Homo sapiens: one gene and its partners. The main gene of each other region encodes a partner of the protein of the gene in region 4 in a complex. Each region holds a gene or a part of one and is shown on either strand. Other genes may lie near its edges. The genes, in order: API5, FGFR2, S100B and FGF2.

Region 1 (7,023 bases), on a different chromosome or scaffold from region 4:
CACTAGGTAGGAATGCTGCACCACTGCCCAGCAGCTTTATTAAACAATTAAAACAAAATGTTAAGATTGACCATTACTCTTCTCCATATATTGGGTAAAAAACTAAGAGGGAAGAGGAAAATCAGTAACCTTTCAAAACTGATGATCTTTATCAGCAGAACTAGACTGAATTTCATTACATTTTAGAATGAACAGCTCTCAACAACAAATTATCAAGATGTTTAAAAGATTCACAATTTGAAGTCTGAATAATGATACTGCAAAAACAAGTCAAGATTGCAGACAAAGCATCCAAAAATATCACTGTGGTTTTACCTTGGACACAACCATGGTCTGTTACAAAAGTAGGTCATACATACAAAGGTATAAAGAACATTAAGTTTTTAGCTGAAGGCAGCAGTCTGTTTAAAGGGACATCCCCGGCAATCCAATGAGTAGTAGAATTTAAGTATATTAAGCTCATGACAATGCTGAAGAATGCTGATGTCTTATTCAGTAGAGTCTTCCCCGACTACGATTTCCTCGTGTGCCCCAACCTCGGCCACCTCTACTTCCCCTGAAGGCTCCTCTCTGCTCTACGAAAAAGCGAACAAGGGTTTAGGTCTTGCTTAGGATTTCATGGTGCAGCAAACGCAGAAGAAACGTAGCTCATAACTCTGAATACAGCAGTAGGCCCTATAAGAACAGAACTAATATTCTGCTATTCAATCTACAAATTTAGCCTGTACATAAAACAAGAACAACATATATACTGAAGCACGTAAGGCAAGGTACCGACTACATTCATGGTAGTTGCTTAATTAAATGTATCCCAGTAACAAAGTTGTTTCAAGGTGATGTTACGATAACTACACTTTTTTTGGAGGGTCTTGCTGTGTTGCTCAGGCTGGAGTGCAGTGGTGCGTTCACAGTTCACCATAACATTGAACTTCTGGACTAGAGTGATCTTTCTGCCTCAGACTCCCCAGTAGCTAGGGCTACAGATGCACACCACCATGTTTGGCTATTTTTTTTTTTTGTAGAGACAGGTCCTCATTTTGTTGCCAGGCTGATCTCAAACTGCAGGCCTCAAGGGATCGTCCTGCCTCAGTGCTGGGACTACAGGTGTGAGCCACTGTGCCCAGCCCGTACACTTTTTAAAAAACTTAATTCTTCAAATTCACGAATAATAATTCTACATATTCGTGGGGTAGAATACTTTGATACAAAGAATGTACAGTTATCAGCTCAGGGTAACAAGCATATCCATCATCTCAAACACCTATAATTTCTTTGTGTTGGGAACATTCAATATTCTTCTATTTTAAAGTATATATTAACTATAGTCATGCTATAGTGGTACACAACACTAGGGCTTATTCCTATGTTATTTTGCATCCTCCCACAAATCTCTCCCTATCCCTTCCTTCCCCCTATCTTCTCAGCCTCTAGTATGCGCTGTCCTAATTTTTACTTCTATAAGATTAACTTTTTAAAACTTCCACATGAGTGAGAACATGCATTGTTTAATTTTCCATTGCTGGCTTATTTCACCTACTATAAAGTCCTCCAGTTCCTTCCATGTTGCTGCAAATGAAAGGACATTCTTTTTTTATGGCTGAATAGTATCCCATTGTGTATAATACCACATCTTGTTTAGCCATTCACCTGTTGATGCACCTGTTGATTCTGGGTTGATTCCATGTCTTGGCTAATGAATAGTGCTACAATAAACATGGGGGTGCCAATGTCTGACTTTTAATCATATGTAAATGAGATAAAATCTCTTCCCTGAACTTCCAACTTACTCATTGTGGTTTTGATGTGCATTACCCTGATGCTTAGTGTTTAGAATTTTTTCATACATTTATTGGCCATTTGTACGTCTTCTTTTGAGAAATGTCTGTTCAGATGATTTGCCCATTTTTAATCTAGATTTGTTTTGCTATTAAGATGTTTGAATATCTTCTATATTCTGAATATTAATCCTCTGTTGCATGAGTAGTTTACAAATATTTTCTCCCATTCTGTAAGCTGTCTTTTCACTGTTGATGGTTTCCTCTGCTGCACAGAAGCTTTTTAATTTGATATGATCCCATGTTTTTGTTGCCTGTGCTTTTAGGTCTCAGTCATAAAATCTTTTCCCAGACCAATGTCCTGAAGTGCTTCTTGTTTTCTCTTATGGTAGTTTTATTGTTTTAGGTCTTACATTTAGGTCTTTCATCCATTTTGAGTTGGTTTTTGTACAGGGTGGGAGGTGCGGATCTAGTTTCATTCTTCTGCATATGGATACCCAGTTTTCTCAGCACCATTTATTGAAGAGACTGTCCCTTTTTTTTTTGTCCCTCCAATGAGTATTCTTGCCACCTTTGTAAAAAATCAGTTGGCTGTAGATACGTGGATTAATTTCTGGTTCTCTGTTCTGTTCCATTGCTCTGTATCTATTTTTATGCCAGTATCAGGCTGTTTTGGTTACTACATTTTTGATTTATATTTTGAGATCTGGTAGTGTGATAACTCCAGCTTTGTTCTTTTTGCTCAGTATTGCTTTGGCTATTTGGGGTCTTGTGGTTCCATATAAATTTTAAGAATTTTTTTTGGTGGCAATTTCTGTGAAGAATGTCAGTTATTTTGATAGAAGTTGTATTGAATCTGGAGATCACTTTGGGTAGCATGGTCATTTAAAATATATTAATTCCTCTAATCCATGAGTACGGAGTGTCTTTCAATTTGTTTGTATCTCCTTCAATTTCTTTCATCAGTGTTTTGTAGTTTTCCTTGTATAGAAATATTTTACCTTCTTGGTTAATTTATTCCTAGATTTTTTTCACAGCTATTATAAATGGGGTTACCTTGATTTCTTTTTCAGCTAGTTCACTGTTCATGCATAGAAATGCTACTGATTTTTGTATACTAATTTTGTATCTTCTAACTTTTCTAAATTTATCAGTTCTATGAGTTTTTTGGTAGAGTCTTTAGTTTTGTTTTTATATATATAACATCATGTCATCTGCATAGAGAACAATTTGACTTCTCCATTCTAGTTTGGATGCCCTTTATTTCTTTCTCTTATCTACCTGCTCTGGCTATGACTTTCATGACAACTTCTTAGTTCTTTATTTATTGTCTATCATTACTAAAGGTAACTCATATAACTATGAAAAATATCTTAAATTATCAATAATCAATTTCGAAAATCAGGTTAGACTACAAAATGTCCCTTTGAATGCAATAAATATGCAATTTTTGTTTTGATCACAGTATTTCACGCAACTGGACTCACACAAATGTAGATCTAAAGGCTGAGTTTTTTTCACTGCTTTATCAGCTACATAAGCTTCTCAGAATACTGCCAAATAGGTGCTATGTGTGTATGTGCGTCTGAGTGTGTTTCAGCTACTGATATAAACTAAGCATATCTTTTGCTGAAAAATCAAGTCACTTGTGATGTACAGAACAAGAGTCTCTCATCCATTGGTCAGTCACTTTTATAGCCACAGAGAAATGGTCCTCAAAGGTGTCGTCCCATGAAGAAAACTGATCGAAGTTATCACAAGGCTGGACTTTTAATCATATGTAAATGAGATCAAATCTCTTCATTAACTTCTAAACTTCCTCATTATAGCAATCTTGTTAGCAACAATAGAGAGAGCTTGGTTTTGCTGTTTTTGATCCACAATCTTGGAGGCTTGAAAAATACCTTTTCAGTCAATTTTGCAATCAATTTTTTTGCCATTATGTCTTACTAGGGTGATGTCTTGATGTCTTTTTTGACCCCCCTTTCTGCAGAAAGAAAAGTAATTCAATTCTGAGACAGGAAACTCACTGGACCTTTCCCCAGTTTGGCTAATATTTATCTGTATAATAGAATGGGTCTGATTCAAAGTCACCTTCTTATGCCATGACACATTTTTTTACAAGCTGATTAGTATGCAAACCATTTGAAAATGAAATCATTGTGTTTATTATCCTAGTGAACACATTCAGAAAATCAGAGGTGGTTTCTCTGAGGGCAAGATGCTCCCAGAGACAGATGCAGTAACTATGGGAGCATTAAGGTAGTGCAGTAGCCTTTTGTGGGCCATGACTTCTGCATTTTTGACTGTTTAGACTTAGAGCCATCTATGCAGATGCCTGCACATTTCACCCTATCATACTCATTATTCACACCAACACACTTAACACTGTCATAGATACTATTATTAGCTTTAAGCTAAAAGACTATTACAATCCACTCTTTCAATTTTAATATGAATTCAGGTTACACTCTATTCAGCTGTACCTAATGAGGAAATTAAATACACTGTATGAAGGTACTATTTGACGTAGTTATCTTTTCTATATTGGCAAATGCTTTTTTTTTTTTTTTTTTTTTACCTCCAATTGATACAGCCATTTCTATAGTACAGAGATTCACCAAATTTTCTTCTTTTTGAAGAGCTTCATCCTAAAAAATACTCTGCATTTTCATGATCTTTTCAATAGTTTCAAGCTTACATTTTTTTTTTAATTCACTGCTCCCAGTTTAAATTAAACTTTAAGGATTATTTTTATATTCCAAAAAGTAAAGAACACAAGTCACAAAATGTAGAACATTTAGTACTTTTAGGTTACTGGGGAAACTTTGTGCACTGGAAGGAAAACTAAACGTGGGTATATGTTTATGAATGCACCGGGAAGTTGAACTAATTTGTGAGAACCAATACCATGTTTGTAAAGCAAAAAACAGAGACATTGGTTAGTAAAGCAATAAACTTGGATACTGAGAACTGCTTTTGTTTCAACAGGTGAAATAAAGTCAAGCAAATGCTTCAAATTTTGTTGTGAGAATACCTATGACCTGATCACATTAAATTCTCAAATGTAAAATAATTGCAGAAATTCACTCTTCTTTCTAATAAGAAGAATCAGATTTTAGTTTGCTTTTGCATGTTTACTTTGCTTTGCCCTTCTGTTATTTTGAAGACTGGGAATAACTGAAGTTGTGACTCGTGGATGTTTGTCTTGAGTAAAACTTTGCTTATGTTTCTCATGTTGACAGTTTTTTTGTGTCTTTTTAAAAAACACTGTATACAATCTAAAGTGTTAGATTTTTCACATTCTTTTTCCACATGCATTATATCACCTGATTCTCACTATTGAGCAGGCAATGAGTTTTACACAATAGAATCTTCATGTAAAATCAAATTGACTTGTCCAATAAAAAGGAGTACAATTCTTGTATTGCCATAGCTATTGATTACTTTCATTAAAGCCATTCTCCCAGTATCTGAGATAACTTTTGATTTTAAGAATGGTACTGTTAGACACATTAAATCATACAAGTGACAGAGAACAACATGTGATTCAACCAAGTAACGGAGAATCCTTTCCCCTTACAAAATACTTTCACAAATATTGTTATTAGAAGGCTGTAAGAGCTCTTACCTCATTTTTCAGATAAGAGGCAAGGAGATGCACATTTACATACTGTTATGTAAATAAGAGAGTTCAGTGATCATCCTTAAAGTAAAGGTGTCTCAGAGTCTGGAGGGGAAGGGTTCATTTCAGTCTAAAATTGGCTTTCTATATAATCTGTTTGTTCAGACATTAGAAGAATTCAACTGTTATAGAAGTAATTTAATGTTACAATTCTCTCACCTTGGAAACAAAATTACAGATATTATATGGTTCAGAATCTACTTTTTTTTTATTTTAAGAGACAGGGTCTTGCTTGGTCACCCAGCTGGAGTGCAGTCGCACCATCATAGCTTACAGTAGCTTTGGCCTCCTGGGCTTCAGCAATCCTCCTGCCTCTTGCCTCCTGAGTAGCTGGGACTATAAGTGCGTGCCACCATACCCAACTAATTTTTAAATTTTCTTTGTAGAAATGGGGTCTCGCTTTGTTCCCCAGGCTGGCCTCGAACTCTTGGGCTCAAGTGATCCTCCCACCTCGGCCTCCGAAAGTGTTGGGTTTACATGTGTGAGCTACCATGCCTGCCTAAACTTTGTCTTTTTTTTTTTTTTTTTTTTTTTTGAGACGGAGTCTTGCTCTGTCGCCTAGGCTGGAGTACAGTGGTGCGATCTCCACTCACTGAAAGCTCCACCTCCCAGGTTCAAACCATTCTCCTGCCTCAGCCTCCAGAGTAGCTGGGACTACAGGCGCCCGCCACCACACCTGGCAAATTTTTGGTATTTTTAGTAGAGACGGGGTTTCACCCTGTTAGCCAGGATGGTCTCGACCTCCTGACCTCGTGATCCGCCTGCCTCGGCCTCCCAAAGTGCTGGGATTACAGGCTTGAGCCACTGCCCCCGGCCTAAACTTTGTCTTCTTAAGCAAGGTAAGGAATTGACCTGATATTTCTCTCCATTCTTTTAAAAAAAAAGATCCATGAGGAAATAAGCCAATGAGAGATAAACTTTACTTTTGATTCGACAGCCGTGGGAGAGGATGGACTGGTATGAAGCTCTCCTGGCTCTAATGGCTAAAGGGGAATAGGAAGCACTGATAGGAGGATTGCATTCTGGGCAGAGGGAGAGACTGCAATAGAACACATCTTCCTTGCTAGATGATGCCTGAACATCTGACTCCACTTCTGTTATTTCTTTTTAACTAGCTACAGAAGATGGGAGTATAGGCAGCAGGCTGACTATGTCCAAGAAAGAGCATTTATACTATCTCTCAGAAGCTATACCCATCCCTGAGGGAGAATGCACAGAATGCCTTGCCTTGAAGCTGCAACTGGGAAAGCATGGAAAGAATGGTTCTGTCAACTTATTTTGTTTCTGTTGGTTCCTCTGAATACAAGAGGCATATTTTTCTTTAAGTGCTTACTGTTTAATGTTGCATGTTCAATACAGTCAGCCCAGAAGGGTGAATGAGAGAGGAATGGGATAAATCATTTCCTCAACAGCCCTAGTTCTCCAAGCTAATTCAGAAAAGTCATTGGATAGAACCATGACACTGTATATAATTACTAATTAAAATAAAGTATAACACAATTTCTGCCTAATCTCTCATATTCCTTGTACCCAAACGGAAACGCTCACCATAATTAAAGTTGC
Region 2 (7,023 bases), on a different chromosome or scaffold from region 4:
ATAGGCCGGGCGTGGTGGCTCACGCCTATAATCCCAGTACTTTGGGAGGCCGAGGCGGGTGGATCACTTGAGGTCAGGAGTTTGAGACCAGCCTGACCAACATGGTGAAACCCTATCTCTACCAAAAATACAAAATTAGCCTGATGTGGTGGTGGGCACCTGCAATCCCAGCTACTTGGGAGGCTGAGGGCAGGAGAATCACTTGAACCTGGGAGGCAGAGGTTGCATTGAGCCAAGATCGTGCCACTGCACTCTAGCCTGGGAAACAAGAGTGAAACTCCGTCTCAAAAAAAAAAAAAAAAAAAAAAAAAAGAAGGAAAAGTCGTAATAGCTAGATCTTTCTGAGACCCAAGAGTTAGTGTCAAGACAATAAATTAGCTGTTCTGCAGCAAGTATTTAATATTTCAGTGTTTAGAATCAGTGTATGTGGCACATTCAGGCTGAGGCCAGGTGTTAGGAGAAACTGGACTGAGAACGTGGATAGACGGGCATTGGCCATGGTAGAGACCAAGAAAGGACATGACTAGTCATTTCAGGAACCTTAGTCATGGGACATGGAGGAGGTACAACAGGGCTAAGTTTGGAAGCGTAGAGACCCGCTAGACGGGCAGTGTGGAAGTCTCAGGGGGAGGGGCAGACAGTGAAGATGGCCTGGACTAAGGCATTAGCAGTGGGAAAGGCATGGTGTGGACACATGGGAAGGCATTTTGGAGTTGAAATCAACAGGACTTGGGAGGAATGTGTAAAGAATACCGGTGTATAGCTCTCCGATTAAGAGAGACAAAGCATTGGAGGAGTTGAAACCTTGAATTTGAGACGTCAAGGGAATGTCAGTGGGGAAGTGTCCCATAGACAGTTGAAAATGAGAACATGGGTCTCAGGAGGGAGGTCATGATGGAGATACGAACTTGCGCATATTTTGTATGTGTTTAGAATTAATGCCTTGAGGATATATGGAAATACATAAACTTAATGGAACAATTCCTCTATTTGAAGGGACAGAAAAAGAGAAGAGCCAGCCAGAGATTCTAAGAGGGCAGGGAGAGACAGAGAGGCAGCTGAGGGAAGGGGACGGGATAAAACTAAACAGAGGGGCTGGGTGTGGTGGCTTACACCTGTAATCCTAGCACTTTGGGAGGCCGAGGCGGATGGCTCACCTGAGGTCAGGAGTTCGAGACCAGCCTGACCGACATGGTGAAACCCCGTCTCTACTAAAAATACAAAATATTAGCCGGGTGTGGTGGCAGGCACCTGTAGTCTCAGCTACTCGGGAGGCTGAGGCAGGAGAATCGCTTGAACCCAGGAGGCGGAGGTTGCGGTGAGCCAAGATCGCACCATTGCACTCCAGCCTGGGCGACAAGGACAAGACTCCATGTTAAAACAAAAAAAACAAAAACAAGAAAACCTAAACAGAGGGACCATTTTAAAAAACAAGCAAGAAATCAATAGCATCTGAAGCCACAGAGGAGGAACAACTGAGGAGTTGGAGGACGTCATTTGCGTCTAACAATTCAGAGGTTCTTCATAAGCTTCAGGAGAGGCAAGAGTGGAACACAGATTAGAATGTTTGAGAAGTGACCAGGAATGAAGAAGACACAATGTTGGATTTTAACCAACGCTTCTGAAAATTCAGGTTTAAAGGGCAGGAGAGCAAGTGTTGAGAGAAAAGATTTTAGGATGATCAGATACAGATCTATAAGCAGCTGAAAGAAAGACACTGGTGTGGCTGGACAACTGGAGGTAGAAGAGAATATGGTTATTTAGTCTACCTTCGCTCTTCAAAATGATCATTCTATTTATTTATAATTCCAAAACAAATACATGTCGTGATCCAGGCTCTCCGATGATCCCAGTTGACCTGTCTTCTTAATCTTAGAGCCACACTGCGTTTTCTTTTCTTTTCTTTCTTTTTTTTTTTTTTTTTTTGAGACAGAGTCTCACTCTGTCACCCAGGCTGGAGTGCAATGGCGTGATCTCAGCTCACTGCAACCTCTGTCTCCCAGGTTCAAGTGATTCTTGTGCCTCAGCCTCCTGAGTAGCTGGGACTACAGGTGCACACCACCACGCTCGGCTAATTTTTGTAGTTTTAGCAGAGATGGGATTTTGCCGTGTTGGCCAGGCTGGTCTCGAACTACTGACCTCAAGTGATCCGCCCACCTTGACCTCCCAAAGTGCTGGTATTACAGGCATGAGCCACCGCACCCGGCCACACTGTATTTCTTATAGTATACCGCAACTGGTTTTTAACATCAGCTATATTTTCTATCTGCATTTTAAGAAATGAACATATTTCCTTTTTGTTCTGGCGGTGTTTTGAAATTAGTTATTTCTCTTGCTTCTTTCTTGATTTCAGTGTATTCATCGAGATTTAGCAGCCAGAAATGTTTTGGTAACAGAAAACAATGTGATGAAAATAGCAGACTTTGGACTCGCCAGAGATATCAACAATATAGACTATTACAAAAAGACCACCAATGTAAGTCGATGGCAGTAACACAGTGGGCAGGGGCGGGGGTGAGGCTCAGAATGTTCCAGGAAGAAAGGCCGTCAATGTTGAGAGCTGGGTGGGATGGCTGGGGACCCATTCCCCTGCCCCGATTCCCGTTCTTTTGACTTACTATTCACAAACTCTCAATATGCAAATTTAGCCTCTATTATGTCAATTTTAGTAAATGTGAAACACTTATATACAGAATAATCAGCAACCGCTAGGATTTTCTTATGGTTCTCATCAAGAACTTTCATAGCAAAAACTACAGCTTGGAAGTTACTGGTTTAATTTTTGCCTAATAACTGGTCAAGGAGCATCTGTGTGCTAGGGAGATAAAGGATAGAATCCAAGGAGATGGCATTTTATTAACGGCCCAGACCTGTGCATCTCACACATTGTTCATGGTCCTCATTGGGACTGATTTCTGCTCTATTGACTGACTAGTAAAAACCGAGAATATCAGCTCTTAAACAGGGCATAGCCCTATTGAGCCTGCTAAGATAAATTCTTTTAAATATATTTAGTTTTTGCATTTTCCTCTACATTTGCAGGGGCGGCTTCCAGTCAAGTGGATGGCTCCAGAAGCCCTGTTTGATAGAGTATACACTCATCAGAGTGATGTGTGAGTAACTCTCTTTTCTCTGGCTTTTTCCTGGGCTTGAGCTGCAAAAATACTGTACGTACTTCACCTTTCTTCCTTCTTTAGTGGCTGCTGCATTTCACACATTCGTAGAAGGTGCAGGAGCTGGCCTTAGAAAGGACAGATTTTATGGTAGGCTGATAACCAATGCTCTGTTACTAATCTGCCTGGCTTCAAAGAGCACAGAAGGTGGAACTGCTGACCTCCCCCTGCCAGAGCGGAAGTCCTTCCCTTGAACATATTCATGGATGTGCAACTACAAAGCGGTTATCTAATTCGCCAAGCTCTTGGCATGTTCTTCACTCCATTAAAGGAGTAATCCTGGAGCTTTTCCCACTTACGAGTAGTTTGTCATATTTCCCTCTAACCCAGATTTGTCCTTAAAGAGTGGAGCTGAGTGAGATGTGGTCCAGGCTGGGGACCTCCACAGGGTCTACTCTCTATGTTTATCCCTCAACAAAAAGGTCTGATCTTGCTTTGGCATCCTTGATAGCATTCTAGAAACACAGTAGAATATTTCTATTATGATATACTGACAAAACCAGTGGGGTCAGGCTCCAACTGATATTTTAGATTTGAAAATTCAGTTGAAGGCTGTGTGCAGTGACTCATACCTGTAATCAATCCCAGCACTTTGGGAGGGCAAGGCGGGTGGATCACGAGGTCAGGAGATCAAGGCCATCCTGGCCAACATGGTGAAACCCCGTCTCTACTAAAACTACAAAAATTAGCTGGGCGTAGTTATGCGTGTCTGTAATCTCCACTACTTGGGAGGCTGAGGCAGGAGAATCGCTTGAACCTGGGAGTCAGAGGTTGCAGTGAGCTGAGATTGTGCCACTGCACTCCAGCCTGGCAACAGAGCGAGACTCTGTCTGGGGAAAAAAAAATCACTTGAACTATTTTTTATTTGTATGAGCAGGAGGAGTTCTGGGTAGGCATTAATTCTGTGCTACCATAGTTGGTCCTCTCAACAATCCTAAAAAAAAGACATGACTATCCCATTTTTGCTGTGAGCAACTGAGGCACAGAGGCTGTTCTGCCTGTCCTGTGCTGCTGCTTTTGCTCTGTAGAAAACTGCGGAGTGAAACACCACCATCGAGTACAGAAGGTTGAGTTTCCAGAACGACCATGATGTAGCTAAACCTGGCTCTCTCAGCTTGCTCCTCCCAGAGATTGAGCCTCCTGAACTTGGCACAGGAAGTCCAAATCTCTGAAGAGTCAAGTGTAAATAAATTATGGCCTGTGAGATGTGTTCAGTTTTGTTGTGTGCAACTCATCTGGGGCATGTGATTCCTCATCCTAACCCCAGCCCAGTGCTGATTGCCTTTGCGATCTTAGTAAGTTCCAGAGCCTCTGTGCAGCAGATGTTCCGCCAGCCACACAGGGCAGCTGTGATCCTGCGGAGTTGGCTTGCTGGCCTTATTCTGTCAACTGCCCATCCTGGTAGATCACAACCCTTGGGTCAGGCACATAAGGAGTTGGAAAGGAGCGTAAAGGCTTTGAAACTGAGAAACTGAGATCCTTGCATTGCTAACACCACATTTAAGACAAGCAGCTCTATTCCAGAGTGATGGCAGTTTGCCTTTTTGTCTATTGATGGAAAATTCCATCAGCACATCCCCGTGTCATCATCATTCGGGGATGCTCTTGCAGGGCAGGAAAGAGCACATAGGAGGAACTGCAGGAGGGCCCATTTGTCTTTGAACTTCAGAAGTGAGGAGGTGTTTATGTCTCAGCTGGGCGTGTTTAGGTTTTGGCAACGTGGATGGGTTAGTAATGCCGTGCTTTCTCCTTTTGTTGCAGCTGGTCCTTCGGGGTGTTAATGTGGGAGATCTTCACTTTAGGGGGCTCGCCCTACCCAGGGATTCCCGTGGAGGAACTTTTTAAGCTGCTGAAGGAAGGACACAGAATGGATAAGCCAGCCAACTGCACCAACGAACTGTAAGGGCTGTTGTCTTTCCTGCCGGTGCCCCAGTGGACTTGCCACACCAGTAATACCTCTCCTGATGTATCTCGTTTTTGAAGGCCCCTGGTTTCCTAAACATGCTCTAAGAAGAATGGCTGAAGCTCTCTGGGCTCAATCCAGAGCTGGGATACATAGCGACACCGACAACCATTACTTGTCTGAGAGAAAGAACATTATTCTGAGTATGGAGAGGGCTTTGGATCAGAGGGTGTCTGGCTGCCTGGCTGAGGGCTCCTGACTTTGCAGAGCCAGCAGGAGTGGTCTTCCTGGGCCACTGTGCTGCACCTTCTGCGGTCTCCCGTGGAGTGACAGGAAGACCCACGGGTCAGGAAACAAGCTAGAAAGCCGCGGGGCCGCCCTGCAGGGTGTAGGATTAAGGAACCAACACAGCCTTTCCCTGGTGGTTGTGCCTGGCCCCCGCCTGGCCCCATCGTGGCCAGTAGAGAATCGGTGTTTCCAGAACTTCTCGAACCATTGAAAATTGCCATTACAGATTGACGCCAACCACATTTCCTCAGAGCGAAGGAACTCGTGTTTGGTTACCTAGGTCTCACTTGTGTTTTAGTGCAGAGAATTAAACATGTGTCCAGGCGCCCTCCTTACTGTACCAGATCTGCCTGTAAAACCATGAACTGGTTTGTAGCAAAACCTGCCTCACACTTTAAGTGGAGTTATGTTGTGTTTGTGACGTGTGCCTGGTGCAATAGAATCAGTGCTTTGAAAGGAGTCTCTCTGCCTCCTGCCTCAACCCCTCCAGGATTAACTAAGAAGAGTGATTGTCCCAGAAACTGCGGTCTATTGTGTATCATTTCATGGGGATTTTATATCAGTAATCCCGTGAGTGCTTTTCGGTGTACCGTGGATGTCTGATGAATGGCCACATTTTATAGCATATTATATAAAGGCATTTATTGTGCTCTTTGTCATTCCTATTGTTTTTTTTCTTTTGTAACGTAGAGGATCTGTCGAAACCCAAAATCAAGATAAGACCTGGGAAGCTAAGCCTATCTAAGAGTTAATCAGGAAGTTAGTGTGCAGCCCAGTGGTGGCAGATTAATTCATCAAAAACTTGAAGTTGTAGTTTTCAAATTTTATTTAATTTTTTTTTAACTCAGGAAGCTGTGTCAACTAGAATCATTAAGACCCAAAGCACCGGGCAGATAAATAGTGGAGCTGCTTTGGTGCTGGGCAGGGTGTCAGGGGAGGGAAGACTGGAGACCAGCCCATGGAAATACGCATTTTCCTTCAGCCTCCAAAGCATCTTTAGGGTGTGACGCCATTGTGAGATGTCACTGTGGCCCAGGGTTACCAGGGAAAACACATAGCTGTGTCTTTCTTGATGGCTTCGATGCCTTTCTAACATGTTTTTGTAAGTCAAAGTGCCTTTCGGAGGAACTGGCAGGGAAGCTTTTGGGAAAGTGATTCATGACCCCCTAATCTAGTTGCTTGGAAGGTTCTGATGCATTTTCCTAATTTACACCACGTCCCCATATTGCCTATTAAAACTGACTATAACCACGTACCCAGTGCATATGAAATTAATTCAAGGAAATCCATTTTTCCCAGGTACATGATGATGAGGGACTGTTGGCATGCAGTGCCCTCCCAGAGACCAACGTTCAAGCAGTTGGTAGAAGACTTGGATCGAATTCTCACTCTCACAACCAATGAGGTAAGAACTTCCTTCTAGAAGCCCCTTGTCCTTGGTTGTCTTGTGAGACATGCGTAGTGTTTTACACACACACTCCCCTGTTGGCTGTTGGTTGGAGTCTGTGGTCTTGTTTATTCTTTTTCCATAGGGTCAGATAGTTCAACTATGGGTTCCTCTCAAATCATGATTTTTCTCAGAACTTCATTTTGTGAGTTCTGACTCATGAAACCAAAGACAGAGGGACATCCCCGAGGCTGCCTTCAGTGTAGCTGCTG
Region 3 (7,480 bases), on a different chromosome or scaffold from region 4:
ATTTCCATGTGACGGTACCCTGCTGTTACATGCACACCCAACTTTATGGCCAGGTAGACCAGATAGCACTTAGGCTGCATGGTCTCCTGATGTCCCATGGTTATGGCCCAAAAGCAAGCCAGATGCTGATTCTCAAAATGAGATCAGTTAGCTGCAGAAGAGAACGTAGACTTACTCCAAAATCCCAGAGCTCTGTGCTGTAATTCTCCTATGGGTGCTTGTCAGAGGGTCCACACTGCATTTCAATGTGCCACAGACACTTCAAATATCACTGGATCTACCGAATCCTATGAGCAAAGTGGTAAAGCAGCTTACATTACAGCCTAAACTTTCTCTGACCCCCATTTGAAACTTCCAGCCTCATAGGCTGAAAGTAGCACATGCAAATATAATAAACGTTGTATCTAAAATCCTCAAAGCCCAACTGAATATTGTGTTTCTTTTTCACAGGAGGTGGCGCAAAATACATCAACTTGTTTTTCACTTGGAGGGGATATTTCAACGTATTCCACACCTCTGAACCTGCTAGAAACTTCACTGAGGTGGAGGGCCCCTAAGTTTTGTGGAGATCATCTCCCACCTTTGCTACTTCCTCTTTTTCAGATTCAATAAGCATAATATTGTCAATATTAGTGGACCAGTGTAATGTTGCGTGAACTGACAAGATGACTAGATCTCTGCAGACAATATCATTGCTTAGAGCAGAAGAACTGGCATGTCCTTCAGGCAACACTGTGAGTGTATACTGTTCACCCTGTCAGGTAAAAGTAAACTGCTTCTGGTGGTCCTTGCAAACTGGTTTGAGAAAAAAGCATGAGTAAGATCAGTACCTGCATGCAAAGTGCCAGAGAATATGTTGATTTTCTCCAGCAGAGATTTCTCATCTGGTACAGCAGCTGTAATTGAAGTCACCAGCTGATTACATTTGCAATAGTCCACATTCTTCATAATCCATATCGTTAGGGAAGCAGGCGCCTAGGAGAGTCAGAGTAATGCCACTTTAAGTTCAGCTGCATTTTGAGATTAACAAGGCACATTTCTTGCAGTCAAAACCTATAGACCTAAGATGTTTATAGCTGAGGAAACAGCTGAACGATACTTGCAAGGACACACTGCTACAACAACAGAGAGTGCAGACATCCCAATACCCAAACACTATACGCTTTCAAGATAACAAGAGCTATGCTTTAACGTACGCACACACTAAAATCTTAAGGATAGTTTTCTTTGAATCAATAGAATAATAAATTTTGCCACGCTGTCTGCTCGCCTGCATATAGTCACAGCTTAGTTTAATCTTTACATAGACAAAACAGCTATATATGCACTTAAAGACAGTGCATTCCTCTACTTGCTTTCTGAGGATGCCCTACTCTGTAATGGAATGTAAGAGCTTTCAATAAACTATCTCTTCTCACTTCACTCTGCAACTCACCTTGAATTCCTTCCTGCGTGAGATCCAAGAATCCCCTCTTTACATCTGGATCGAGACCCCTTTTTCTGGTAACAATATGAGTTCTGCACAGGCCAAAGTGGCCAGTTAAATGGGTTTGTAAGAAGTGTCACAGTGCCTGCTTATTTCAACCCTTTAATGGTGGCATTAATCTCCAAAGCTCTTTCAGAGATTCAGTATTTCTGGATAAGAAGGGGAAGTTCTGGGACTTTCACTAAACTTCTCCTACCATCATGGTCCTCATCTCATACGTAAGAGAGCCAGTGAGGGGATTTAGCTAGTGTATGTTTGTTTCAATTATACAACCAGGAACTGAAAAACTAACTATAGGGAGAATAGTGTACCAACTGGGCCCCCTGTGAGTCGGTCTCATGTTAGAACCTCTATCAAGTGAAGAACTGACCATCACAAGTTTCTGCTTTGACTGGTGAGCCACAGTGCCATTTTTGGTTCCCAGGAATTTATGTCAATTGAGGCAATCCCTGAGACATCTAGGTTACTTCCTTTTCATTAGTTGATGGCTGCAGGACACTTCAGAAAAGGTGTGGAAGAGGGTTTATGGTATTCTTTCTCACTAGCACAGATTCTTTCTCAAGGGGCCTTGGCTTCTCCCTTCAATCAAGATGCTCTAGGTCTGACCCAACTTAGGTCTGGAAACTCGGAGAGAGCCCATGATCTCCACTGTGGTGATTCAAGTTAGGTACTTCGGTGACCAGACCTAGAGGTTTTCCTGTTGTGTGGATTAAAGACTACTCTAGCGACTGTCCATCTCTTCATTCTAAGGAACACTGTGAGCAATTCACCACTGCCAAAAATCTCTGTGGACCAAGGCATTCTGATTATCGGTGTGTTCCTTCTGCTGTTTATGGCTGACATGCCCACCTTGTCTTAGCCTGCTACTCTGAAATATTATCGTCCCGCTGAAATCAGAGGTCTAGTCTAGCAATCCACATGGTCATATGTAGGCTACAGACCATGGAACTTTTCAGGTGTTCCACTCACTCAATAATGCATTTCTCATTACTTAGCGAAGGGTCTTCCTGTGGAATGTAGCTGCAGGGGGTGGGTGAATGTGGGAGTCACACATGATTGGATCTGGTGGCTGTCCAGTCTAATGGGATAAGATTAAAACTGAGGGGTCAGGACAGGTAAGCCAGGGTGATCAGGAAGTGTGAAGGTCAGGGAAAAACACCCAGAACAACCCTGCAAAGTAGGGACTACGGTCACCCCTTTCACAGAAAGGCTTAGGAATTTATCCAAAGTCAAACCACTGTTAAATGGTGGAGCCAAGATTCAGACCCAGCAATTGTAGGAATCTGTGGGAAGCTGGTGAGGTTGTATCCACGAGCTCCTGGGGAGCCTGGGCAAAGAATACCATCCTGGGGCCCCAGAGCGCTTGAAAGCCCTTTTCCTCCCTGTGGCAGATCCTCTCTCTCAGCCTGCTTCCAAGACCTGGGAACAGGGTGGACCCACGGCCCCACACTTGCCATCCCAGGAAGCTGCAGTGTGCAGAGGGCAGGCCCGGCTGGGCCCTCCTGCTGAACGCAGTGCCCTAAGCACAGGTGTACGGTCATTGCATGAGTGGATTTCAAACTATTTTTAACCCCTGCAGGAGCAGGCTAGAGCGTTTTCTATGGACACTGAAGGGTTAATCCAGAGCTCAGGCTGCCACTCTGGGGAAGTGGTCAGCACTTACAGGAATGGTCCCTCCAACATCTGAGCGAGGAAGGGGCACAGAGCACAGTTGTGCCTTCCTTGGGCCTGGGCAAGCTCTGTGCTTCACAGAGCAAGCCTGTGTCAGATCCTTCAGCAGAGACCACAGCCAGGGGTGGTGAAGCCGATGAGGAAGTGAGGGCCAACCACACTGCTCAGGCTGTTCCTCACAGGAGGCTGGGGCAGGCTGAGCCACGCAAGACCACAGCTCTCAGCCCTGTGCTATTTCCAGGGCACACTTACAGATCCTGAATGGTAGAGAACGTCCTGGATAAAACAATGACAGCAAGACAGCCATGTACACAGATATCTTGTGGGAAACCCTTTCACGGCCACTTTGAAACTGGGTTGGGAGAAGGACGTGATGCTGGGTCAGGCATCCATTGGGGACCATGGACATTTTTGGAGAGTTTGGGCCAATGTTCTTGTGTAATTTGTCAGAAGGAACACCTACTTCTTCATTCTTGTGAAGAAGAACCCATAAACTGGCCCCCGTGTTCAGAGGCTCCAGTCGAGCGAGTTGAGGGGACAGCTGGACTTCTCCTTCCTCAGGCTGGCTGGAGGCTTCAGCAAGGGGGCACACCGTCCACACGCCTCTGTAAAACAGCGTTCGAACGGGACATCTCTAAGGCATCGTCCAACTCTGAGAGTCTGTGACCTTCCACCCTGGGGTGGAGGGAAAGGCCTTGGGATACAGTCCACACATCACGTTTTCCCCTAAAAGTACCACCCGTTTTAGTCCCTGCAGACACTGGCCTCAGCAGCTTCTCTGAGGCAGCCCCGTTGAGCCCAGGGCTGACCACAGACAAGCACTACTGTCCACAGAACTTCACGCCCAGTGGGGCCAGACTTGGAGGATGGCAGAGGAGAGAAGCTCCAGGGGCCTCTCCATTAGAAACCAACTTGCAGGCCACTTAATCTCCTATGCTCAGCCTGTACTTGGAAGCTGCTTGTTCTTGGCTGCACATTTGCTTTGTTTGAATCAATTAATCCAAGTCTCTCTCCTCTCCCCACCCCCAACCTTGCCTTTAGGGTGACATCAATATTCATGTAATAAAGAAATCGCACAAAAAGCTGACTCCCCACTTCCTGCCCTACAGGCCCTTTTTTCTTCCTCAGCCCATGTGCAATCCTGGCTCCCAGCAAGTCCCCGGGGCTGCTTGGTCAATGCAGCCCTGTGTGCAGGCCTGGCAGCCCTGCCACCCCCGCCTTCGGCTCCCATTGGCTGCCACGGCCTGCAGTGGGCTGCACCAGGGTTCATCCATCCTCCCTGGGCAGAGGGAATAAGAGGCTGCCTCTGCCCACCAGTCCTGCCGCCCAGGACCCGCAGCAGAGACGACGCCTGCAGCAAGGAGACCAGGAAGGGGTGAGACAAGGAAGAGGTGAGAAAGAGCCAGGCCAAGAGGACGCTCAGGAAGAAATGGTTCTTTTCTTTTGGGTGGAACGGAATGGAGGGGTAGAAACTAAGTGGTAGCTTAAAAAGCCCCTTTAGGACAATTGGCAGCATTTCAGAAGTGTCAATAGGATGATGTGTTTTAATCTCCACATTACTGCTGCTTTGTGGACACCTGACTGCATCAGCCCTAGACAGCTAGAGGTGTGTTTTGCCATAAATCAGAGAAACGTCAGGTTTCATGGCCCAGAAGTGATTGTTGACATTTTCCCAGCGGTACTACAAATACTGCCTCTTCTGTAACTATTTGAAGAGTAAAGATTTTGCTTCCCACTGGGGCTAAAAATGATGGAGAACCTAATGCTAGTTTAGTCCTATATCATAAATAAATGCTTCCCTTTTCTCCTTATATTTCTTCCACCGCCCTGGGTAAGTAACTCTTCAGTTTTCCAGTTTCCCTCAGTTTGAAGTGCCAGGGTCCCCACAGCCCCAGGACGCCACTCAGAAATTACGTAACAATTACAAATAAATTGGGTCAAAGAAATCGGGGTTTTGGTGGGTTTTAACTTTCCTCAGTCTCACAGTTTCTCAGGGAGGTCGAACCCCTTCTTTAGAGGGATCCTCACACGCTAGGTAACTTGTCTTTCTAAGGAGTTAAAGTTCAAAAGTTCTCTTGTTCTCAATATTAAAAGATTAATGTAGGACATTCAAAGAATGTGAGAAAGAAACGGACATTTATTTCCATTTCTCTTAAAAGATAAACTATAAACCATCAACTATTTCTTAGGTCAAAGGGAAAAATTTAACAAGAATTTAATTGATTTGTAGTGTGGTTATGAAGAAAACCATATTTTCTAGTGGTTTCTATTAGTGTTCTAATATATGGGATACATGTTTTATGCCTTTCCTTTGTAATAATCCCATTAGTCACAATTCATAGAAAAACAATTTAACCTCCTTTTCCCCAAATCATCATGGACTTTGAGGAGCATCAGAATGATGTAAAAGTGTCTTGTTTTGTTTAAAAAAATACACACACATACAAACATGCATATATCAATAATTGAAAACTTGAGTGCAAAGAATAAGAAAGCATGAAATGTTAAAGATTTTAATCCATCTTAATTGTTCTATTTGTGAATTATCAAATTTTTAGGGACTCAAGAGCAAAATAAAGTACACTGATTATTAATAGAATGACTTTAGCAAAGATCTGGCCAGTATAAAAAAATCTTCAATCCTGTTTCCTTCGGAGGATCAGAAATAAATAAAATAATTCCAAATTATTTTTAAGATGTAAGTTATATATTCAACATGGGAATGATTTTTCAACACTATTTGATTTATTAATTTGTTTTTAATTATGACAGCGCAAACGTTCTTATTTAATGATTAGAACTCAAGGCCAAAAGCTGGTAAATTTCTCTGACTGCGCATCTGTTTTGTGAAACAACTGACAAGGCAACCTTTGTAAAATGCGCCTCATTCCCAGACTGACCAGATATTTCCTTGGTTCGTAGGCTGTGGCGTAAGGTACTTGCTGTGAGGGAGGTAGGGGGGCTCTTACTTTGACAGCTGCAGAGAAACACCTATTCCTGCCCCCACCCCCTCCCGCCGTCCCAGTCACTGCAGTGAATGAGCCACCCTTTCGGTACACTGGAGGTGGAATGCAGGCTCAGCAGCTCAGCTTTCTGCTGGATTCTGTCCCTCCCTGCGACAGAACCACACCCATTTGATCAGTTAAACTTAGGATACATTTTTTTTTCCTGGTAGATCAAATAACTTTCACTGTTATTCTTCAAAAAGATTGCGGCAATTCTACCATATTTATTTTTCCTGATGAATTTTACAGCTGTTTTTGTCATGTCACCCATCCAAAAAAATTCCATTGTTTTTATTAAAAATGATTTAAATTTACATATGAATTTAAAGGAAAAACTTCCTACATTTTATGTTCCTCAGAATCTCTTGGAAGGACCTACGTTTTTCTTCCTAAACTTAGTCTTAGATCACATGTTATTGCTATATGCATAGGATATTTTGCACTGTATTTTCTACTTCTTTACTGATAGAATATAGGAATGCTATTGATTTTTTGTCTTCTTATTTTGCTCCTAGTCACTGTCTCACTTTCAGATTGATTTTAACAGCTTGCAGTTGATGGTTTGCTCACCTGCACTCTACCACCTCATCTTGGAGCCTTGCAGGAACAGAGAGGGACCCTGTGGGGATTAATTCAGGGGAAATTAATCCCTGAATTCCCTTGCTGCTCTGCCTCTGTATTTTTGCCAGTTTCCCTGTTGGCCCAACCCAGCCAGAATTCAGAGGGCATGGGAATATATCCCCGTGGCCCACACGGACAGAGAAGGCAGGCCCACAGCTGTCTAAGAGGCCGGTGGAAGGATTATGATAAAAGTGCAAATTCCCAGAATGCCCCTCCAGGCCATGCCTGCTGCTCTGAGCTTGAAAAGAGTGCCAAGGCCATTCCATCCCCCTTGTCTGGGTTGAGGTCTGTATTGATAACATATGAAATGTTTTAGGATGAGGTATAGATGAGAAGGCAACTTTCCTTTGCGAGCCCCTAGGATGTCTGAGCTGGAGAAGGCCATGGTGGCCCTCATCGACGTTTTCCACCAATATTCTGGAAGGGAGGGAGACAAGCACAAGCTGAAGAAATCCGAACTGAAGGAGCTCATCAACAATGAGCTTTCCCATTTCTTAGAGGTGAGTCTTGCTTTTTAAACTTGACACTTTCTCCATCTCCTCTTAAAATCCATCTGTACACTGGCTTTATCTTCTCAGCTGCCCTGAAGGTGATTTCATTTCCCTTCCAAGACTCCTGGGCTGCTTCTGCAAACTTGTTTGAGTAACGGAACCCTCAGTGTGGGGCTGGCTCAAATGAGCCCCTTGTTTTCATTTCC
Region 4 (7,023 bases):
AGCCCAACCTGGACATAAATTTAAGTACAGTATATTATTTTCTCACATATTGGATGTTTACTGATAGTTGACCAAACCATGAGGAGACCCCCCAAAACAAATAAAACTGACCAGAAAACATGGAGAAGAGTTAATAGTAGCCACAGTTTCCTACTACATTATGGCTCAGATTTCTAGACCTGTTTGAAAAGTTGAAAAATCTATGGTCTCATTCCTCAGACTGTTTTGTCCAACTGACCTGAACATCTGTCACTGGAATTTTTTTTCCTTTGGCATGACACTTTGTGCCTACATGTTTTCTAAACTGCAGGTAACTTTTGAAAGGCCAAGTTCAACCATTATCAGATTTTAACATTTAGTATGGATTAAATTGTGAGTGCAATTTCTTCCCCAAAAGCTGGCCAGAAGGACTGGAGTTTGGGGAGGGATGCTTTGAAGACTGTGATATAAATGATGGGGTCCTGGAGAGGTGCAGGGGAAGAGGAGGCAGAGTGGGAAGCTGTGAGGTAGGAAAGAGAGGAAAATTTTCTAAAAGAAGAGGTAGGAGAAGATGACACAACACAAATGTTTCCAATTTTTCAGTGTTGCTGAAGGTCAACTGTGCTTCACACCTGGGCATTCTCCTGAATTTGCACTCAAAAGGGCCCATTTTCTGGCGTTTTTCTCATAGTCCTGGAATAATCTTCATTTGACATGAGAGTCTTGATAAAAACAAGATGTTAAAAGTGGTTAGAGAGTTTCTCCTTCTCCAGCATGTGCGCTGCACTCCTGCCTTTCTTTTGGCATCCTTAACTTTTGGCAGGCCTCTTTCAATGCGGTGGGAATGGATAATATTAAGTATGTACTCTAAAGTAGCAAGCTGTGTAAAAACATTCAGAAGAGAGAACACTTTATCCCAAGCAGCACGTACAACATGTGGTAGAGTATAGTAAGTGAAATGTATGCTGCTTATGTACACTTAGTATTCAATTTATTCCAGGTGCTCTTATTTACAAAAAAAAAAAAAAAAAAAAAAAATGAGAGTAGTTAGAAGTACTGTATCTACCCTTGGGCTTCTCCCAGGAGGTGACTGCCTGTGTGCCACACTTCTTTGCTTGCAGGCTCCAGAGGACGCTGAGACTTGGAAAGGCAGACCTGCCCACCCCAGTGTGGAGCAGGGGTGGCTTGTAGGTGGGCCTGACCCCTGGGCTCTTTGCTACTGCATGTGTTCCATGCAACCCCAAGCATAAAAACATGGACTTGTGAAATCAAAGGGAGGCTTCAGACCTTCTGGTTTACCCATCTCTTTTTACAGAAGAGGATACTGAAGCTCAGAAAAGTCACCAATTACTCAAGTTCACTTGTGGGTTTCCTCTTTTTTTATCCTGAATGAGCTTCTTACCACCTGGTCCCTTGCCTTCTCTTCCTGCCATCCCTCAGCCTCAGTGCGCTCTTCATTCCACCATAGAGTGTGCCCTGCTGGACCCCACTTTGGTTAGGCTTCCTCCATTTCAGGGTAGTGAGCTGCTAGCCCCTTTGAAGAGTTCTTACTAGTTTACGGGTGCCTCAGGTTGATTTCCTGGGGTTTTGGATAAAGCCACCTTTCCATCTCTTCACTACTGCCTTTGGGGTAAATAGAACCATTGATTTAATAATACACGTACTAGATTCTCTCCCCCCACCTCTCTTTGGTAATATCTGGCAAGTGGATAGCAATAATTTTACTTAATGAACGTGATATTTACTGTAATAAATATTGGGTGCAGTAAACAAATGAAGTCAGAATCTAATAGCTCATTTAATCTTGGAAATCATGTAATCAGTACAGCAATGAAAGGACAATTCATGAGTCATAGATATTACCACACCTTAGGAGCCTTTTAAGATGAGTTTGATGCCAAGTGACTTCAGCCTAGAAAAGGCAATATCCCCTCATGACATGCCCTGAGGGGTTTCATTTGTTTATAAAATGACCGTTATGTAATTAGACTTTGACAATGGTGTAACAATTGGGTTTTAAGTATTCTCATTTTGATTTATGATGCCATTTTATGTGGAAGGACATAATTTTAAAGTTTAATTAGAAAATAAAATGTTACAGATGTAATGAACAAAACAAGAACGGTTCTTTAAATATCATAAGCATAAAATTGACTTTCTTCATCTATACACTGATTCTGAGAACTCATCATCAGTGATGTTGAAAAGACAATTTAAGGTCTCACATTATTGGAACTACTATTTTAAAACCACGAGATGCCTGTACAAGCTGGTAATTACACATGTGCTGTAGTCTTTGCTTGTTTTTCCAATTCTAGTGTTTGTTGATTTTCCAGATACCCTACTTGGGCCCCTATGTCCCGTAGCACACGTCTGTAAGAAGGCTGGCATGGGATAAAAGTCTATGACCATGAAACGGAGCAAGGCAAATCTGTATCTTTGGGGCACATATCTTTTTCTTTTTTTCTTTTTGAGACACAGTCTTACCCTGTCACCTAGGCTGGAGTGCAGTGGCACAATCTCAGCTCACTACAACCTCTCCTTCCTGGGTTCAAGCAATTCTTCTGCTTCAGCTGTGATTACAAGCACCTGCCACCGCACCCAGCTAATTTTTGCATTTTTAGTAGAGACGGGATTTCACCATGAATTTTCCTGGCTGGTCTCGAACTCCAGACCTCAGGTTATCTGTCCACCTCAGCCTCCCAAAGTGCTGTGATTACAGGCGTGAGCCACCGTGCCCAGCCTGGGGCACAAATCTTAACCTCATCAGGATATTCTGTCCAAACAAATGTATTTTGTTCTGTTTTATTTTTGAGTTTGTCCTTTTCTGTGCTCTGAAATTAGGATCTGGTCTAGTACTTAATTTGTATATTGTCAGTGCTCAATAAATAGTTAATGCTTGATTGTTTGCATAATAATTTGGAATAATGATTATCAGTGTAGAGTTTTAGCTGGATCATTAGAAAATGCACTTATGGCACTGTGATTTTAAGTGTTTCCTTGTTGTATCCACTGTTCAGTTAGCTCCTGCTTTCTCTTTTCTCCCTTTAATAATGACCGCCAACAAGGCCTTTTAAGCTAGGTTATGTATAGCCACAGGAATTTAGGAGAGGAGGAAAAGAAAAGTGGCAACTTCCAGGGGAACTCACCCTTTGAGCCATAGACTGTGGTTCTTAGAAGCCAGACCAGTCTCATTCTAAACACCTTCAGAATATTTTTAGTTTGAAGAAATTGGAAGGGCCTGGAGGCAACAGACAGCCAATATTCAGTGTTTATGTCTCATCCAGCTGTCTTCTGTCACTCTTCCTGCACAAGGTGACTTTTGACTTGACCGGTGTATCTTTGATACTTACTCATTTACAGAAATGTATAATGGATGTGTGTGTGTGTGTGTGTGTGTATGTGTGTATTTGTATTTTTATAGAGCTATTGACTTCTGCAATTTAACCTCTAAGATGAATTATCCAATAGAATTCTGAAATGAAAAGTTCACAGATTTTCAAGGTATTTTGGAGATTTAAAAATTGAAGAGAAGCTATGTGAATATTAAGTGTATGTTCCAGATATAATTGAACAATTGAAAGGAATGATCCTGGTTTAATTTATAATTAAGCTATACATTAATTTATAATGAAAACTTGTAATTAAATGATAACTCAAATTAGCCAAGAAAAAAGTATTTTTTAAAAGAAATTTGTACAGAGTAGTAATGATCTGGCTGCATTCTGTGAACAGATTATTCTCTGTTCATAATTTAGGCACCTTAAGATGCTGGCACCTTAAGGTAGGAACCATGACTTCTTTATATAAATAAACATCATAAAAAGCTCAGTACTTTTTACTCAGAGAGTGCTCACTAAATGTCAGCTGATGAGGAAAACATTCTCTGTGGAACTTGCTGTGAAATAACTACTCATGAGGCATATGCTGTATAAAGCTTGGTCAAAGTTTACAGTTTTCTTGGTGTCTTGACATCTGTGTTTAGATACTTGGTCAATCTTTAAATGAAGATAATTATATATAGCAAAGTTATATTTGGGAAACATTTCGGAATTTTGGAGACTGGCTATTAGTTTTTCTTAGAATAATCTAGAGAAAGATGAATCATTTTTCAGGAAAAATTGTTTAGAACTTTTATTGGGAATTCTGATTTCCTTAAAAGTATTTAAGATTTTTATCATGTACTATTGTTGTAGGAAAATCCTGGTTCTTGTCACACGCCCAGGAAAGATTAGGCTCACAGACACTTTGGAGGGTGAGGGGTTATGGAATTTATTGGTCAGAAAGAAAAAAGGAAAAACAACACAGCAAAGCAATAGGGGTTCATATTAACAGGCCCCCATCTCACAGATTGATTCCCAAGTTACCACCCCGAACAGGAGAGACCAGTCTCCTCCCTGCAAAGGGCGTGAACTTCTGTGGCTCCACCCCATTCTCCCAGTGTGCAGGCCATTTGGAGGTTCTCCAGGGACCCCTTTATACTTGGCTGTCCTGTCTCACTATGCAATATAAAACTTTCTCAGGTATGCTGTGCATTGTTTTTCATTCTTATTTTCTTTTGTGAATAATATCCTGGAATCAGTACGTTCTTCTACATCATCTCCTTTTCTTTTTTTGAACTCTTTTAAATTCTAGATTCTGCCCTCAGTATTCCACTTAAATCATTCTTATGAGAGCACCAGTAGTCTTCTAATTTAATCATGTGGCCTTTTCCAATTTTTCATGCTACTCTGACATGTGGCAGTATTGTCTGCCTCTGACTTCTTGATAATTCCTTGGCTTCTATTACATCACATCAACCTGGTTCTCCTTTTGAAACTGCCTTTGCAAAAGTTATATCTGAGAAAATTATGACACTGCCAGAGATATGACCTAGCCCACTCCCCTCCTCTTGCCTTTAGCTTTCAAGCTGCCTTAATCATTTCTGGGCTTAGGCCCAGATAACTTTGGGAGATAGTTTAAAGGATAATAAGCCTTCCCCAAAACTCAACTGCCTTTATAAAGCTAATGAAAGGCCCTCAGGCTTCAGGGGAGGACAGGAATCTGAGTTGTGCTAAGGTGTAGACGTATTAATAGATTGCCACTAGTGCACCAATAGTGGTGCAGATAACACCACTATTGTAGATTGGCCTTTTGAGATATCTTTTCAGGTTTTTTGCATGTCTGACACCCATGGCTCCAGCTGGACCTGCTAAACCACTCCTGTGGCCCCACCCAGGAATGGTTCCACTCAAGAGGACAACTTTGACCCCCTATTATTTCATCTTCAGCCCAATGAATTATCAGTAAGCACCCATTGCATAGCAATCCTCACCCTTTCCCCCAAACTGCTGTTGAAAAACTCCTATCCCATGAGCTGTGGATGAGATTGGTTTGAGTACTAACTCTATCTCCCATGTGGCTTTGCCGGCCTTGTGTTTATTAAACTCTTTCTTTACTGCAATGCTGTGGTCTTTCCTTGTGCAGCAGGCTGGAAGAACTCCTCAGGCGGTTATACTTTTGCCCATCCAACTGTCTTTTTTTCCACTTTCTTCTGTTTTTTTTTTGCATTTGTATTCCCCCAAGGTTCTGTTTTTAGCCTTCTACTCTTCTTTCTGTGTACTTGTATTCCTTCAGAAGATCATGTATTGTCTCTGTCTCTGTCTTGATTCCCCATCTCAATTTCCCACTGCTTGGAGGGCAGACACACTGCCATAGCTTCAACTTAACATACATAAAACAGAACTTAACACCATTTTCTCAAACTAGCACCCTTTCCTCCTGAATTTCTGCTTGTAGTGAATTATTATTCTTGTCTCCAAAGCTAGACACCATGGAATTGTCTTTGATGCCTTTCTCTACTTCTTTCGTATATATCTCTCTAAAATGTTTCCCAGCCATAGTGATTTCCTTGCCCTGCCTCTTGATTTAATGACCTCTACTCTCCTGCAATTTTAAGCACTAACCAGACCTACCTGGCTTTCCTTCTTAAACATGACCTACCTTATTTCTTACTGTTTACCATCCATACCTTCCTGAAGCTGTAGCACTCTGTGCTTTAATTATAGTCTCTTTAATGTGTCATAACGATTACTGTCACAATGATTGGCCTTTCTTCATGTGACTCTTGTTTTTGAAAAATCCTTCTTTTTCTTATCAATTTCTCTCTCACAACTCCTCCCATCCTCACCTTTCTCTGGAAAAATCCTTTAAGATCCAGCCCAACAGACTTCTTTGTGAAACTTTCCTCTACCTTCCCAGGGAGAATTAATGGTTTTTACTGTTTTCCCATATACTTGGTACATAGTCTGAACACAGAACTTCATGCTTTCTGTAATAGTTAGTGGTTTATGTGTCTGGCTTCTGCACTGGGACTGTGAACTCTTTGTAGGCAAGCACTGGATCCCATTTGCTGCATCTATCCTCACACACAGTGGCCACTCAAAGAATGTTTGTTAAATTGAAGATGTACTCAATAAATTAGCCAAGTCTCTTAACTTCCTTTCTGACCTTCCCTTCACGTCTCCTGTCTTCCTTGTCATCTTAGCCTTTAACCAGGCAGTTTTCCTTAAGCTGAAATGTCCTGTCTGTCCTCGTACCTTATCCCATTTCCAGTCATGCTTTGGGCCTTATTTCTTTCACATCATCCTGTATCCATCTTTCCTTTTCTGTGTGCTATCTAAAAATTCTCTCTAATAGCTTGTTGTATTTTAATTTTATGTCCCCCAGTTTTACTGGAAATTCCTAGCTGGCAAGAAATTTTTATTTTTAAAAAATCCAGACCACATTACCCAGTAGTTCTTTACTCTTTCCTATTCTGAGGGTCTGAGGCTGAATTTACTCATCCCAGGGTCCTTTTGGCTTCATTGCTGAATGAGTGACCAGTCTGAGTCCCATGAAAAGGTTCACTCTATATTTGTTGAATGGGCAACAACTTCAAATAAGTATAAATACTATAGTATGAGGCATATAAAATGGTAAATTGAATGCAACAGCACTGTAGTTCTTTTCTGCAAACACCTTTAACATTATTCAAGGGAAGCAATAAAGGCAAAGCGTAGTCAT

What was found.
Region 1: the proteins of FGF2 (region 4) and API5 are in contact, whole or in part, in a crystal structure (PDB 6L4O), measured with the Homo sapiens proteins. Residues at the interface, in NP_001997.5 of Homo sapiens: Asn169, Arg181, Arg223, Lys261, Arg262, Thr263, Gln265, Lys267, Lys271, Lys277, Ala278; in NP_001136402.1 of Homo sapiens: Asp145, Arg148, Glu184, Asp185, Val186, Thr187, Glu190, Glu219, Asp222, Gln225, Asn228, Asp231, Arg237.
Region 2: the proteins of FGF2 (region 4) and FGFR2 are in contact, whole or in part, in a crystal structure (PDB 1II4), measured with the Homo sapiens proteins. Residues at the interface, in NP_001997.5 of Homo sapiens: Phe154, Pro155, Pro156, Gly157, His158, Phe159, Lys160, Lys163, Tyr166, Lys168, Gly170, Gly171, Phe173, Arg186, Leu197, Gln198, Ala199, Glu200, Glu201, Arg202, Gly203, Val205, Ser206, Tyr215, Val230, Phe235, Glu238, Leu240, Asn243, Asn244; in NP_000132.3 of Homo sapiens: Glu163, Lys164, Leu166, His167, Ala168, Val169, Pro170, Ala171, Asn173, Asp247, Val249, Glu250, Arg251, Pro253, Ile257, Lys279, Val280, Tyr281, Ser282, Asp283, Ala284, Gln285, Pro286, His287, Ile288, Ala315, Gly316, Val317, Thr319, Thr320.
Region 3: the proteins of FGF2 (region 4) and S100B are in contact, whole or in part, in an NMR structure (PDB 2M49), measured with the Homo sapiens proteins. Residues at the interface, in NP_001997.5 of Homo sapiens: Arg164, Tyr166, Cys167, Lys168, Asn169, Gly170, Gly171, Phe173, Arg186, Lys188, Asn243, Asn244, Tyr245, Arg262, Lys267, Gly275, Gln276, Lys277, Ala278, Leu282, Met284; in NP_006263.1 of Homo sapiens: Glu47, Ile48, Lys49, Glu50, Gln51, Glu52, Asp55, Lys56, Cys85, Phe88, Phe89, Glu90, His91, Glu92.

What each region holds. Positions count from the first base shown.
Region 1 is NC_000011.10:43,335,980-43,343,002, reverse strand, and holds part of API5 (apoptosis inhibitor 5), read right to left. Parts: coding exon 7,009-7,023; intron 3,763-7,008; coding exon of another isoform or gene 3,725-3,762; exon of another isoform or gene 576-3,724; coding exon 493-575; 3' UTR 1-492. UniProt on the Homo sapiens protein: Antiapoptotic factor that may have a role in protein assembly. Negatively regulates ACIN1. By binding to ACIN1, it suppresses ACIN1 cleavage from CASP3 and ACIN1-mediated DNA fragmentation. Also known to efficiently suppress E2F1-induced apoptosis.
Region 2 is NC_000010.11:121,483,444-121,490,466, reverse strand, and holds part of FGFR2 (fibroblast growth factor receptor 2 isoform 1 precursor), read left to right. Parts: intron 1-2,353; coding exon 2,354-2,476; intron 2,477-3,042; coding exon 3,043-3,113; intron 3,114-4,934; coding exon 4,935-5,072; intron 5,073-6,663; coding exon 6,664-6,769; intron 6,770-7,023. UniProt on the Homo sapiens protein: Tyrosine-protein kinase that acts as a cell-surface receptor for fibroblast growth factors and plays an essential role in the regulation of cell proliferation, differentiation, migration and apoptosis, and in the regulation of embryonic development.
Region 3 is NC_000021.9:46,602,081-46,609,560, reverse strand, and holds the start of S100B (protein S100-B), read left to right. Parts: upstream 1-4,478; 5' UTR 4,479-4,548; intron 4,549-7,137; exon of another isoform or gene 7,138-7,144; 5' UTR 7,145-7,145; coding exon 7,146-7,283; intron 7,284-7,480. UniProt on the Homo sapiens protein: Small zinc- and- and calcium-binding protein that is highly expressed in astrocytes and constitutes one of the most abundant soluble proteins in brain.
Region 4 is NC_000004.12:122,829,824-122,836,846, forward strand, and holds part of FGF2 (fibroblast growth factor 2 isoform 18 kDa), read left to right. Parts: intron 1-7,023. UniProt on the Homo sapiens protein: Acts as a ligand for FGFR1, FGFR2, FGFR3 and FGFR4. Also acts as an integrin ligand which is required for FGF2 signaling. Binds to integrin ITGAV:ITGB3.